Linked DNA regions of Homo sapiens. The protein of the gene in region 2 purifies or fractionates together with the protein of the main gene of each other region. This does not show direct contact. Each region holds a gene or a part of one and is shown on either strand. Other genes may lie near its edges.

Region 1 (7,496 bases), on a different chromosome or scaffold from region 2:
TGCACTGGACAAAACTATGCAGTGAGAGGTTAGGCAACTTGCTCAGGGTCCCAGACCCATCCAAGGACTGGGTCAGGACCAACACATGGTCTGGAGTGGTGCCACATGCTTTTGCACCTATGCTGTGACCCACAATGTGTGCGAAGCCCGTGCACAAGAAAAACTCAACTCCAGGGGGTAACTTGTCACTATGACCTCAATAATGGCAGCAGGGACTCACCTCCAAAGGCCCTCTGAGCCAAGGCTGAGCAGTTGCTTTATGTCTGGACATTTGCCTTTCTACCTAGTCCGGTTTTCAGACTGGGGTCTGAAAGCCCTAGAGACATTGGGCTGTAGGAGGGAGGGGGTGGTGTGTCCAGCTCTGCAGATCCAGAGTGGCCACTCCCCTCAGGGCCCTGTGATTCTGAGAATCTAGCTAGGACCAGAGCTGGGACCCAGGTTGGGATGGGGGCAAGATTCCGCTGGCTTTGGGTGGAGGCAGGAAAATTCTTCCCTCAATTCCCCCTGAGGCTAGGGCTTTGTGAAGAGCTATCTTGGGCTGGCCCGCTGTTCCATCTGCCCTTCCCCATCCTGCGAATCTGGCTGCAGGCTCCCTGATGGGGCTGCCAACCATAGCCCAATGAATAGGGTGACTCACACCTCAACTATTGCTCCCCACTTTTTGTGCTGAACAAGCGTGAGGTGGAAGGGCTGCAAAGTTGAGGCCACTAAAGCTTTCTTTCTCTCCTGGAGGGGCCTGGGGGCTGGGGTGGCACGTGCAGGCTACTTGTTAGTGGGCTCAGATGCAGAACACCCTCAGAATAAGGGTGAGGGAAGAAGAAGGATGGAGGGAAGCCTAAGGAATAAAGAATCCTAAATGCTAGATTAAATCCTAAATCCTAAACACAGAGCATACCCAGTGTGAAGGGGACAACAGACTCATCCTGTAGACACGGACTGAGAGACAAAATCAGATGGACAAGACTCTGAGACTCAGCATAGGGCTGGAGGATTCACAGAAATATATGTGAATATATATAATGTATATACATTCTGTTATACATAGGTTGGTGTAGATATAGGTTGGTGCAAAAGCAATTGAGGTTCTTGCCATTGTGGGCTTCACATAACAATCTGGGGAAGGAGCGGAGGAAGAGGATTTTCTGTCTGTCAATTCACTCCAAAAAATATCTGCAGAACACTTCCAGTGCCCAAGGCTGGGCTGAGGGTGTGGGCCATGCAGAGATGTTCCCTAACCTTGGAGACTGCCCTGCTGGGGGGGACTTAGAGGATATGTACAAATGCTGTTTTATGGAACATGTTCTATTTATCATGCTCTATTAAATGTATCTTCTACTAAAGCCCTACAGATTGGAGTGGAGGCTCTGAGGAGAAGGAATCCTGGGCTGGGATGGCAGGATTTGCCTAACCCTTGTTCCACGAATGGATACCACCCTCTCCCTGGTGTCTGTGAAGGGCTTCTCCATGTATGAAATGCTGACCAGGTCCTACATTCCCTGCACAGCTCTGCGAGAGAGGTCAGGGCAGCCAGCTTACTGTCCTTTCTCTGATGGGGAGAGCAGCAGGGCGGGCCCTGCACTGTCTTCTGCTGACAAGGAAAGCAGCACCCAGAGGAGAAGCTGAGCAACATGTCCCACCAAGCCTGGGAACTGCCTCTGTGGGGTGCCCAGCAGGAAAGCTCCCTGGTGAGCCTAACACAATCCCTCCCTTCCTGCCACAGTGAAATTCCAGGCTGGGGTGGGACTCTCCCGAGCTGCAGTGGTGCTGGTGCCTGGCTCCCCACCAGGAGCGGCTCCATTATTTATACCTGTCCAGGTCTGGCATTGAGGGAGGGGCTGCCCTGCCTGCTCATGGGAGGATTCCCACGAAGCTCGGATAGAAGAGTGCTGCTGCTTCTCCCATGGAGCACCCACATGCTCCCTGCTCCCATGGAGCACCACACACTCACCGTTGGTCCCTGGCACATGGATCTGAGCTTGGCACACTCTAGCAATCCTCAGACTAGCCAGAACGCATTCCTGCTCTGCCAAGTCCTCTTTCTTCACAACACAGCTGGGAGGAGAATGAATGGGGAGAAGAGAATGTCCCAGTGTCTCAGGAGGGGTGGGGCTTCCCTGAGGGCAGTGAGGTCTGTACCCGGGACCTGTGAGTGTATGTGGTGGTGGGGATATACCCCGATATCGATCTTTGAGTGGAGCAGGAGCATCCCACTACGAGTCCTCAGACACTTGCTTCAGGCTTGGATCTGTTCTGTTCTATCAGGAGCCGAGGGTCCCCTGGTATGTCTCAGGCCTCCAGGACACTCACATCTGTTCTCCAGAAAGCAACCAAATGTGAAAATGGTGAGCTCAGCACAATTCATCTCTGAGGGTCTCAGAAATGCTCCAGCCAGGGAGGCCACCCAAACCATTTTGCTCAAGACCTGTAAGACCGGCTCCGGCCATTGGTCTGTCTGCCGAGATTGACCTGTCAGCTGCTTGCTCATCGCAGCCCTCTGGTGAGAAGTCACTGTTTCAGCTGATCCTCAGCACCAGGGAGTCATTTTCCCACTGCCTTGGCTTCCTTGTGGCCAACCGCAGGCCCTGGTGAGAGATTCCTGAGCCTGGGTCTGGTCCTGTTCTTCTACTCTTGAGAATATAGCCCCTCCTCCCTGAGGCTTTGAAGCCATCCCCATTGCATTCCTACCTCCAGCCTCGGGCCACAGGGCGCCCCCGAAACTCTGAACAGCCCAAGCACTGTCCTGCCTGAGAGCCCTGCTTCTATTTGGGGGACGGCAGAGAGGTGGCCCCACTCAGATCTGCTGCCAAAAAGAGTGGGTGTGGTTTAGAACAGACGTGTGTTAAAACCTCATCAGAAACCCCCTTTCCTCCACCTGGTGCCACAACCCCCCAGACAAGTTTTGCAGAGGGGATCTCAAAGGGCCCTCCCTAAAGCAGCTGGCAGATTGTCATGCCAGCTGCCTGGGCCCACAGGCCTGCTCTGGCTAGCCTTTCTGGCAGGACAATCCATAGACTTAGAATCCCGTTTTCCATTGCCTTGGCCCTGAAGGAGGCTGTGGGCTACAGCATAGAGAAAGCAGAGCAAGTCCCGCTGCTTGGAACAGGGTGGTTCGCCGTTATAACAGGCCGTCAGACTCTCAACATGTTCCTGATGAGATTAGAAGCTCCTGCAGGTATGTGTTTGTGGCGGCCTTCAGCCTGTATCAACACATACGATGACTCATTTCTTCCCTAGTGGAATAGAGCTTGCTGGAACACACCTGGGGGGCTGGGGAACCGGCAGAGTAGCTACCCCCAAAGAGAGACGCTATAGCCCATGAGTCTCAGGGTTTTTTTTTAAGGGATTGCATGGGATCCCCGGGTTTCCTAAACCCCCCACAGAGTCCTGCCCAGGCCAAAGAGCAAGGAAAAGGTCAAAGGGCAGAAAAAATGCTGAGTTAGGAGGAGCTATGGAAGGATAAACCTGGCCTTAAAGAGGTCAAAGTGGTTTATAGGGGGCGCTGAGGGCTTCCCACATTCTCTGGCCTAAACCTTGCAGGCAGATCTGCCCAGTGGGCTCTGGGATAGCTGTGCCTTCCCTAAGAAAAAAATTGTGCAGAAAAGGATGAAACTCTATTTTCCCTCTAGCACATAACCAAGAATATAAGGCTACAGATTGCCTTTCCCAGAGGGGAAAACCCTGCAGCAACCTGCTGCCTGGAAAAGTGTAAGAGCAGATCACTGGGGAATCGTTTGCCCCCCGCTGATGGACAGCTTCCCCAAGCTGGAAGGGCAGGTGCTCAGCATGTACCGTACTGGGATGGTTGTCAATACTCCTGGTCCTGTAAGAGTCCCCAGGACACTGGCCATGCCAATGCCCCCTCAGTTCCTGGCATCCTTTTTGGGCTGCTCACAGCCCCCAGCCTCTATGGTGAAGACATACTTGCTAGCAGCGTCACCAACTTGCTGCCAAGAGATCAGTGCTGCAAGGCAAGGTTATTTCTAACTGAGCAGAGCCTGCCAGGAAGAAAGCGTTTGCACCCCACACCACTGTGCAGGTGTGACCGGTGAGCTCACAGCTGCCCCCCAGGCATGCCCAGCCCACTTAATCATTCACAGCTCGACAGCTCTCTCGCCCAGCCCAGTTCTGGAAGGGATAAAAAGGGGGCATCACCGTTCCTGGGTAACAGAGCCACCTTCTGCGTCCTGCTGAGCTCTGTTCTCTCCAGCACCTCCCAACCCACTAGTGCCTGGTTCTCTTGCTCCACCAGGAACAAGCCACCATGTCTCGCCAGTCAAGTGTGTCCTTCCGGAGCGGGGGCAGTCGTAGCTTCAGCACCGCCTCTGCCATCACCCCGTCTGTCTCCCGCACCAGCTTCACCTCCGTGTCCCGGTCCGGGGGTGGCGGTGGTGGTGGCTTCGGCAGGGTCAGCCTTGCGGGTGCTTGTGGAGTGGGTGGCTATGGCAGCCGGAGCCTCTACAACCTGGGGGGCTCCAAGAGGATATCCATCAGCACTAGTGGTGGCAGCTTCAGGAACCGGTTTGGTGCTGGTGCTGGAGGCGGCTATGGCTTTGGAGGTGGTGCCGGTAGTGGATTTGGTTTCGGCGGTGGAGCTGGTGGTGGCTTTGGGCTCGGTGGCGGAGCTGGCTTTGGAGGTGGCTTCGGTGGCCCTGGCTTTCCTGTCTGCCCTCCTGGAGGTATCCAAGAGGTCACTGTCAACCAGAGTCTCCTGACTCCCCTCAACCTGCAAATCGACCCCAGCATCCAGAGGGTGAGGACCGAGGAGCGCGAGCAGATCAAGACCCTCAACAATAAGTTTGCCTCCTTCATCGACAAGGTGAGCTACGATCTTTTGTAAAAAATCACTGTGGGTCTGAAATAAATGCCAAAGAGAGAGAAAGAAGGAAGATGTTTTGGCTTTGTGCAAATACTTTTATAGTTGTACAGTTCTGTGTTTCCGTTTGTTTCTGTGCCCTGGATTTGTGGACACGTTCTGAATTAGACTGGCAGCTGGGAAGGGAGAATTATTTCTTCCCATTCAGAGGTTAGCTCACAAGGGCCTCTTAACAACTGTTGGACAGAGAGATGAATTTCATGCCATATATAAAGGGGCTGACTGTACAGGAAGGTAGACAAGTGCATGGGCAGCAGCCTGAGTGCCTTTGCAGCCACCCCTGAGCCGGGACACACTCCAAGCAGCACTCCTAGTGCTTTCTGTGCCCTGGATAGGTGTCCTATCTCCCCCTGGAAAAGTGAGTTTGGGTGCCTCAGTCTGCACCTCCCCTCCTGGGGCCCAGGGCCAGGCACAGTGCACAGAAAAGCTTTAGAGGGACGGAAAGAGGTGGGAGGCACCTTAGTGAGTTGATCATAGAACATGAAATCCAAGTTTCTCTATCTTCAAACCCTGCTCCCCTCCAGGTGCGGTTCCTGGAGCAGCAGAACAAGGTTCTGGACACCAAGTGGACCCTGCTGCAGGAGCAGGGCACCAAGACTGTGAGGCAGAACCTGGAGCCGTTGTTCGAGCAGTACATCAACAACCTCAGGAGGCAGCTGGACAGCATCGTGGGGGAACGGGGCCGCCTGGACTCAGAGCTGAGAAACATGCAGGACCTGGTGGAAGACTTCAAGAACAAGTGAGTTGGGGTGGAGGGTGGACACAGGGGAGGGTGGTGTCTTCTTGGTACCAGATGGGCTTTGTTACTAGTCTACTACCATGCCTTCCTTTGGGGCTGGGAGGATATACCTTCCATGGACACCTCCAGTACTAAAACAAACAAACAAATACACAAGCCAGGCTCATGTTTAGAAAGTTCCAGCCCCAGGCTCAGGCCCTCTGCAAGGAACTTAGTCAACAGCCAGAGCAACATGCTCTGTGCCCTTGGCACTACCTGGTGAAATCTGCCCTGATGTAAGGCTTGCTCTCTGGGACTTTCCTCCCCGGTACATGGGCCTTTGGATAGATTTGTCTCAAAGCAGGAGCTGGTGACATAACCCAGCTTGGTGGCTCAAGTAATTTCTTTAGTCTTATGAACCAGCAACTAGGATGCTAGATTTAATTTTGTTTCTTTTCTTTTTTTTTTTAAAGCCTCTGAAAGCTCAAAAAAGAACACTAGAGAAATTGACTAGGTAATGCAGTTGGGGAGAAACAGCACAGCTTTTCTGCAGGAATCTGCTTGAAACAACTGAATTAGAGCAATAATAGAATTATTATATGGTAGGCAGTTACAGAGAAAGCAGTATTTAAATGGGGAGGGACCTTGGCCAGAGGTTCATGCTACCAGTGTCCCCTCCCTCTCTGCCTATGAGGAGAAGCCCCTTCCCACTGCAAAAGTAGGCTTACAGTTGACTGCATAATAAAGACCCCTTACCTGTTGCTCATCCTCTGACAAACACTTCCCATCCCTTTCACCACCAGGTATGAGGATGAAATCAACAAGCGTACCACTGCTGAGAATGAGTTTGTGATGCTGAAGAAGGTGCGTGTGGGTGGGAGAGAACCAGCAGCCTGCAGCTATGCTCTCTAAGCGTGGAGCTCACTTGAGTAGGGTGACGGTGTGTGCAGTGCCAATCATCCCTGTTTCCCCAGGATGTAGATGCTGCCTACATGAACAAGGTGGAGCTGGAGGCCAAGGTTGATGCACTGATGGATGAGATTAACTTCATGAAGATGTTCTTTGATGCGGTAAGAAACTTATCTAAATTTTTCACATGGGTGGGTTTTTTTTCCTCAAGTTGTCATATCACAATGAGTGAAAGATTTGAATGGAACTGACATTAAATAACACAACACAGAACCAGATGACCGACTCCAAATCTCCCTGCAGGAGCTGTCCCAGATGCAGACGCATGTCTCTGACACCTCAGTGGTCCTCTCCATGGACAACAACCGCAACCTGGACCTGGATAGCATCATCGCTGAGGTCAAGGCCCAGTATGAGGAGATTGCCAACCGCAGCCGGACAGAAGCCGAGTCCTGGTATCAGACCAAGGTGGGTGCTCTGATGACTGTCTCCTGAGTGAGGGGACACACCCATGTCTAGGATTCTAGGCCATGACGACACTAAGAATGGGGCTCCTGGAACCTGCTGAAGCCCATTGGGATGCTTTATAGGAATGGCTGTGTAGACAATTTCCATCTAAACCCAAGGACCTGAGAAATAATCTCACTCTGAATCTCACACCAGTGTCTCCAGGAGAGCAAAGGCACTAGACTAGCTCAGCCTTGGAAAAGCCTGAACCAGCCCCACACTATTTGCCACCACTTAGTACTCACTGCCTGTGAACTTTGGGAAAGTTCTTCCCATTCTCATATAAACAGAATCTTTCCTCTTTCCTGGCTGCATCAGTATGAGGAGCTGCAGCAGACAGCTGGCCGGCATGGCGATGACCTCCGCAACACCAAGCATGAGATCTCTGAGATGAACCGGATGATCCAGAGGCTGAGAGCCGAGATTGACAATGTCAAGAAACAGGTAGGGTGAGATTGAAAGAGGGCAAGGAAGGGGCCTGAGTTCTAA
Region 2 (7,639 bases):
TAGAGATATAATAGCATCACTCTTCATCCAAACACCAATAGATGACATTTTATCTAATATCATTCTCATTTACATCAGCCCAGTTTTAATATATTCATTACCAGCACATTTTTTTTCAAAATTCATGTTGTTTTGTAAAATATTTTTATTCATTGGACATTATCATTGTATTTCTAGTCATTAAACATTCTGTAACATCTTATTTTAATTCTATCCAGTTAATATAATTTTTTTCTCCCCTATCTTTAATGTTTTAGTTTAGTTATGCTATCGTATATAACAATGCAGTGAGCATACTTTTAGATAAATATTTGATTGTATCTGGTATTAAAATACATTTAAGGAGCTAGGCCCAGTGGCTCATGCCTATAATCCCAGCACTTTGGAAGGCCAAGATGGGAGACTCTCTGGAGGCCAGCAGTTTGACACCAGCCTGGGCAATATAGTAAGACCCCATCTCTACAGAAAACAAAATTAGCTGAATGTAATGATGTGTGCCTGGAGTCCTAGCTGCTTGGGAGGCTGAGGTGGGAGGATCATTTGATCCCAGGAGTTTGAGGCTGCAGTGAGCCATGATCGCAACACTGCACAACCTGAGTGACAGAGCGAGACCCTGACACTAAAACTTAAGTACATTTATGTTTAGTTTTTAATGATATTGAACATTTTTATGTGCTTTCTAGGGACTGTTTAAGTTGACTTTTGTATTTCCTCACACATCTGTGTGACGTTAGGTACAGATTGAGGGCATCTGTAACAGCTGAAATGTTCCCAAACAGGTAAAGCTCCAGATGGCTCTGGAACTTATGAGGAAAGAGTTGGAGGACGCCTTGACTCAGGAGGCCAACGTGGGGAAAAAGACTGTCATTTGGAAGGTAAGACCATGTTGGGGCTTTAGGAGGCTTGCCTGTTTGAAGGATCCAGATTCGGGTCAGTAATTCTTCTACCATCTTCCATTCTCCAGCACTTTTGTTCCATCTCCATATATGCCCAAGAGCACCTCAGAGCCATCCTGGGTCATCCCGTCCCCTCAAATGATATGGTTCATTTTTGTTCTTTTTGTCTCTACTGCCATCACCCAATCCAAATTATAATTAAATAGCTTTGCTAGTTTGATCTTCCTGTAAAACCCACTGCTGTATCCCTGTCACCTAGAATAGCATCTTATACTGTTGCTACCAGTTTGAAAATATTTGTTAGGTGAATGAAATAATGAATATTTCACAACTTTGTAACAGAAGAAGTGTAGCCCAAGGTGATCATCTTATATACAGGGTAATAATCTGAACGTTTAGCCTTTTTTTTCTATCATCTATACATACACATATTCCATTTTTTTATACCTCACTAGCTCTTTTTATTCCATGTTTCATTCATGCACATGTGCGTGCACACGTGTACACACACACACAGTGATTCATACACACACAGTGATTCACATACACACACACACACAGTGATTCTCAACCTGAGGCGATACCTGCCCCCCAAGATAACATTTTGCAATTTCTGGAGATGATATTTTTGGATGTCACAACTGAGGAGGGGTGGGTGCAGTGCACCTGTCATCTAGTAGAGGCAGGAATGCAGCTTAACACCCTGTAGTCCACAGGACAGTTCCCATATCTTGTGAGGAAAAAATGATCTGTTCAAGATGTCAGTAGTGTCAAGATTGAGAAACTACGTATAGAAACTGTGTGTATAGTTCTATATATTCATATAATGTATTATATAATATGATATATAATAGGTTATACTTTGCAGAATATTCCTATTCTTTCTCCTTTTCCAAATAACCCTTCTTTTCTGATCACTCTATATATTTATAATTATTTCCTTCTTGTTTTCTTTGAAAATTTAGTCTTATACTCTGTCTTTATACAGATATTACATAAAGACTTTTTAAACTATATTTTTCTTTATTTACTACATTACTAGATTACAATATAGATATATACGGATAGGAAAAGATAACACTTATCCCAGAAGAAACATGTACATTAAGGCCAGGCGTGGTGGCTCACACCTGTAATCTCAGCACTTTGGGAAGCCGAAGCAGGTGGATCACCTGAGGTCAGGAGTTCGAGACCAGCCTGACCAACACGGAGAAACCCCGTCTCTACTAAAAATACAAAAAAAAATTAGCCAGGCGTGGTGGCACATGCCTATAATCCCAGCTACTCGGGAGGCTGAGGCAGGAGAATTGCTTGAACCTAGGAGGCAGAGGTTGTGGTGAGCTGAGATCGTGCCATTGCACTCCAGCCTGGGCAACAAGAGTGAAACTCTGTCTCAGACAAAAAAAGGAAAAAAGAAAAGAAAAATGTACATTATAGGTAAATGATGTAGATAGTGATAGGAAAGGATAAAAGTTATCAATATTAAATAATATTGATGTTAATAACATTAGTACCTAACGTTACTCAGATGTGTGAAGAAATATTTAAACTTATTAACGTTGATACTGACAAACTTATCAATATTATTAACAAATATCTTTAAACTAGTAGTGACAGTATAAGATGCAATTCTAGGTGATAGGGATATAGCAGTGGGTTCTGCAGTAAGATCAAGCTAGTAAAGCATAGTTTCGATTGGGTAGTGGCAATGGAGATAAAAAGAACAAGAACAAAGCTTTACAGTATTAAATAATGTTCATTACTTGCCTATAATGTACATAGTGGTAGGATGTACATTATTTAATATTGTAATATTGATTGATAATTTTTGTTCTTTTCAGGCTGAAATACAAGTCAGTTGTTTTCAATCCTGGCCTGACCATAGATCTATAAAATCAGAATCCCCATATCGGAGAGCTGAGTTCCTGCATGTTTTAAGCCCTCTACAGATTATTCTTAAGTAGGGATGATACTAAGATCCCTGTTCTAAGCCAAGTAAACTTGCATGATCATTACCATCAAGAATGTCTCCATGTGAGCCAAATGCAGCAAACACATCTTTGGTCAAAAGTTATTCTAAATACTGCAAAACCACCTTTCCTTTTTCTCTGTCTGCAGATATAGTTGTGCTCAAGAGGGTGGTGTGAAAGGAAGATGGATTGCAGGCAAATCGCTTCCCACCTTCCCACCTCACACCCCCTCGTGCCCCAGGTATGACTCTACCCTTCTCCAGTGGCTGCGTTATTTGCCCCACCCCACGACAGCACAGCCTCTGATATGAAGAGAGCTTCTCATATTTACATGAGTTACACTTTCAGGAATCAGTGTATGGAATTCAGACTTGGCTGATTTCAGAAAGAAGATGAAGTTTTCTGAATCTGGTGATTTAGAAAATGGTGGAAGGAGGTAGAGATGGAAAATGGAAGGAAGTAGTTAAGTCTTAGGGGATGTTTAGTTTAAAAAGGTGATAGCTCATGCCTTTTAGTCAAAGCAAGAAGTTATCACGTTTAAAAACAGGCAAATAGGCTGGGCACAGTGGCTCACGCCTGTAATCCCAGCACTTTGGGAGGCCGATGCGGGCCGATCGTGAGGTCAGGAGTTTGAGACCAGCCTGACCAATACGGTGAAACCCTGTCTCTACTAAAAATACAAAAATTAGCTGGGCATGGTGCTGCGTGCCTGTAATCCCACTTACTCGGGAGGCTGAGACAGGAGAATCACTTGAACCCAGGAGGAGGAGGTTGTAGTGAGCCGAGATCGCGCCACTGCACTCTAGCCTGGGTGACAGAGCGAGACTCTGTCTCAAAAAAAAGATTAAAAAAAAAACCAGGCAAATGACTTCACCTACAAGGCCGTATAACAATGTAACAAAACTGCATTTGTACCCCATGAATATATACAAAAAATAAAATAAATCGATAAAACAGGACAGAGAATGGGAGGTATAGATACTTTGAGGGAATAATTTACCTCTCGTACTCAGCTTAAAGTTAGTTTTCGATATACTTATCTTGAGAGAAGAAAATCTAGAAACTAAGCCTGGGACGAAGTATGTTCCTTAGGTCTATTCAGAAACTGAAGACGTGAGATTCAGGTAGAAATTGGGATTAATTCTCTGACGTGAACTCTGAAATCAGTGGCCTGAGCATCACTTAGTTCTTTCTTGGCTTTGTAGAGAATGTTAGGCTTATGGTTGTGTTCACTATTACCATATTATGAAACAGCATTCATATTTTCTCATCTCTCAGCCTTTTCTTATTCAAACAAACATTTCTTCATCATTCAGTTGTTTCTAGTGGTTCTAGCGACTGATCTAGTAGTAAATAGTAACTTCTGCTGTGTGACTGCTCTATGCTAATCACTGTTCTTGTAGTTTAATAGATATTTAGCTGTAATCCACATACTCCTCTTTTTCCCCACATTTTTTAAGAGATGGAGTCTTGCTCTGTTACCCAGGCTGAAGTGCAGTGGTGCAATCACAGCTTACTGCAGCCTCGAGCTCTTAGACAAGTGATCCTCCCACCTCAGCCTTGTGGGTAGCTGGGACTACAGGGCTTACCACCATGCCTGGTCGGTTCATTTTAATTTTTTTAGAGATGGGGTCGCATTTTGCTTTGTTACCCAGGCTGGTCTTGAACTCCTGACCTCAAGCACTCCTCTTGCCTCGACCTCCCCAAAACCTCACATTTTGTATATGGTACTGAAACTTCAGTATAAAAGTGCCTTGCCCCCAAGCCTGTGGCAAAATGGGAACTCCAGTCCAACAGTATTTTTTAAACTTAATTTGAAAACTCTCCTGGGCTACTTCTTATATGAATGGACTCCAGTCTGTGCATGTTGTTAGGATGCAACCAGTGAGTCCACAGAGTTACGGAGCCCGGGGAAGTCTGGACATTACCTTCTCCAGCACTGTCCTGTACATGGCTGCTGGAGGCCAAGCACTGACGATGTGATCCACGGTGTCACCTCAGGAGAAAGTGGAAATGCAGAGGCAGCGCTTCAGATTGGAGTTTGAGAAGCATCGTGGCTTTCTGGCCCAGGAGGAGCAACGGCAGCTGAGGCGGCTGGAGGCGGAGGAGCGAGCGACGCTGCAGAGACTGCGGGAGAGCAAGAGCCGGCTGGTCCAGCAGAGCAAGGCCCTGAAGGAGCTGGCGGATGAGCTGCAGGAGAGGTGCCAGCGCCCGGCCCTGGGTCTGCTGGAGGTGAGGCCGGGTGCCAGAAAAGCAGGCAGATGTGAGACTCAGGTGACAGAGACTAGTACAATGGCTTTCAGAGACAAACACTTTGGCGTTTATGTTCTTTAGGAAAAGGGCACCCTCAAATTTACTCAGAAGGCAGCTTAAACACCCTAGAATTTACTCAGAAGCCATTCCTGGCATCAGAATCATGAGATTCTAGAGAATCATATAGTTTGAGTCTGGCATGGTGGCACATGCCTGTAGTCCCAGTTATTAGGGAGGCTGAGACAGGAGGATCGCTTGGGCCAAGGAAATCGAGACCTTCCTGGGCAACATAGCAAGACCCTGTCTCAAAAAACAAACAAACAGCATATAGTTTGTTTTAAGGACTAAAGAATTCTTAAAATTAATGATTTCTGAAAACTTAAACAGCTAGGGAAAGGACAAGCTACACTCTGCTGGCTGAGAAGTAATTCCTAAAACCTCAGAGTCAGTTTGTCCATGATAGCATTGCTGTTTTTTAGGGATGGCTAGCACAGAAAGTCTGCATAATACATTTCAGTGTCACTGGCCAGAAGGATGAATAATGATTTAAATTGTCCAGCTTGAAATTGTTATATTGGATTGTAAAGCAAACACTGATTTCCTGGCCCACATTGCATGCCCGTTCCAGGCATGGCGAGGAGGGATTACGTGGACTCCCGTGCAGCTTCCTCCCAGTCTGTTTGGGATTAGAGAGCAGAAAGACGAGTAAGAGTGAAAGGAAATCTTTGTTTTTAATCCTCTGTGAGGCATCATATCCCAAGTGAACAGGGAAAGCCAAAGTTGTTGATAGATCCATGTTTTCTTGGTAGAACCAATGGCAACAGAAATTTATCTGGACCGACTCCTATCTCCTCCCCAGTGACTCACGCAGGGGATTCTAAACTAAGTGATGCATGTTCTCATTTAAAAGCTGACCCACGGATTCCACCTTTTCTGACTCAGTTCTAGGCACTGAAAGTACCATGAATATAAATAATCCTATTAACTGTCTGTATAATATTTGCAAGTACAATGACTAAACAGGACTGATTATGAGGCAGGGGACCATTAGATGAATTTATAAAGCCATTTAATTTGTCTCATTTTATCTTATATATATTAAATTTATATTTTATTATTATTGCTATGTTCATTTCCTTGTTAGCAAACTAAGAGTCAGAAAGGAATTAATTTTCCAAATAGCAGAGAGCAAAATACAAGAACTTTGACGGTTTCTTTTCTTTTGTTTTTTTGAGACAGAGTCTCGCTCTGTTGCCCAGGCTGAGTGCAGGGTGCAGTGGTGTGATCTTGGCTCACTGCAACCTCTGTCTCCTTGGCTCAAGCGATTCTCCTGCCTCAGCCTCCTGAGTAGCTGGGATTACAGGCATGTGCCACCGCACCTGGCTAATTTTTTTTTTTGCGTTTTTACTAGAGATGGGGTTTTGCCATGTTGGCCAGGCTGGTCTTGAACTCCTAACCTTAGGTGATCCGCCCACTTTGGCCTCCCAAAGTGTTGGGATTAAAGGCGTGAGCCCCTGTGCCCGGCTTGACAATTTCAACAATAGTATTTATTGCTCTGCCTGCCTTGGCCTCCCAGAGTGCTGGGATTGTAGGCATGAGCCACCCCGCCTGGCATGGGAGGATATATTCTTAAATAAGGTATCTTATCTATCTATTTTTCTAAAAGGGCAGGATCTCACTCTGTCACTCACGCTGGAGTGCAGTGGCTCAATCATAGCTCACTGCAGCCTCAGTCTCCTAGGATCAGGTGATCCTTGTGCCTCAGCCTCCCGAGTAGCTGGGACTAAAGGTGTGCACCACCACGCCCAGCTAATTTAAAACAAATTTTTAGTAGAGATGAGGCTTGGTTGTGTTGCCCAGGCTGTATATTTTTATACTTTCCTTTCCCTTTCTTCCCTGGTACTAATAAGCTACATTTTACCCCTGAAGGCCAAGACCAAGGCCTGACATTCCCATACAGGGTAAAGCAAATTATTCCCCTGCTTTTATGTCATTAAAACTTATCTGACTGGCAACTGTTTTTAAGGGGAGAGGGGAAATGTATCCCAAATACAATTATTAATATAATAAATGTATCACAGATATATTTATTTAATAATCTACTTTGAGAAAATAATGTTACTAGTTATTAAAGGCTTCCTTTATTAATCTATTTAGATAACCTCCTCATAGGAATAGCTCTGGTACGTTGGTTCAGAGAATTAGGAATTTATAATTCCTATAAAGATATTTAGGGAAACATTTTGTGTCTTTATTTGAGGAACCTATCCATGCCCCTCAAATAAATTCTATGAGTACTTAGGATCTATTTTATCCTGTTCCGTCTGAATTACATGCAGAATGTTACTCTGTTACAATATCCAAGTAGCAGAATTATTAATTCAGAAGATAATTAAATTGATAGGTGTTGCAGGAATTAACCTAAACTTTGTATAGCTTTAAAGAAAAGAGATTTGTCTGAGTGTGGTGACTCACGCCTGTAATCCCAGCACTTTGGGAGGCTGAGGTGGGTGGATCACC

Evidence for each region. The genes of interacting proteins can lie anywhere in the genome.
Region 1: the proteins of TRIM58 (region 2) and KRT5 purify together in Homo sapiens (affinity purification with mass spectrometry, with the first as the bait; 2 studies listed by BioGRID). This does not show direct contact.

What each region holds. Positions count from the first base shown.
Region 1 is NC_000012.12:52,517,062-52,524,557, reverse strand, and holds the start of KRT5 (keratin, type II cytoskeletal 5), read left to right. Parts: upstream 1-4,163; 5' UTR 4,164-4,261; coding exon 4,262-4,816; intron 4,817-5,397; coding exon 5,398-5,612; intron 5,613-6,394; coding exon 6,395-6,455; intron 6,456-6,565; coding exon 6,566-6,661; intron 6,662-6,803; coding exon 6,804-6,968; intron 6,969-7,325; coding exon 7,326-7,451; intron 7,452-7,496. UniProt on the Homo sapiens protein: Required for the formation of keratin intermediate filaments in the basal epidermis and maintenance of the skin barrier in response to mechanical stress.
Region 2 is NC_000001.11:247,859,838-247,867,476, forward strand, and holds part of TRIM58 (E3 ubiquitin-protein ligase TRIM58), read left to right. Parts: intron 1-779; coding exon 780-875; intron 876-4,867; coding exon 4,868-5,098; intron 5,099-7,639. UniProt on the Homo sapiens protein: E3 ubiquitin ligase induced during late erythropoiesis. Directly binds and ubiquitinates the intermediate chain of the microtubule motor dynein (DYNC1LI1/DYNC1LI2), stimulating the degradation of the dynein holoprotein complex.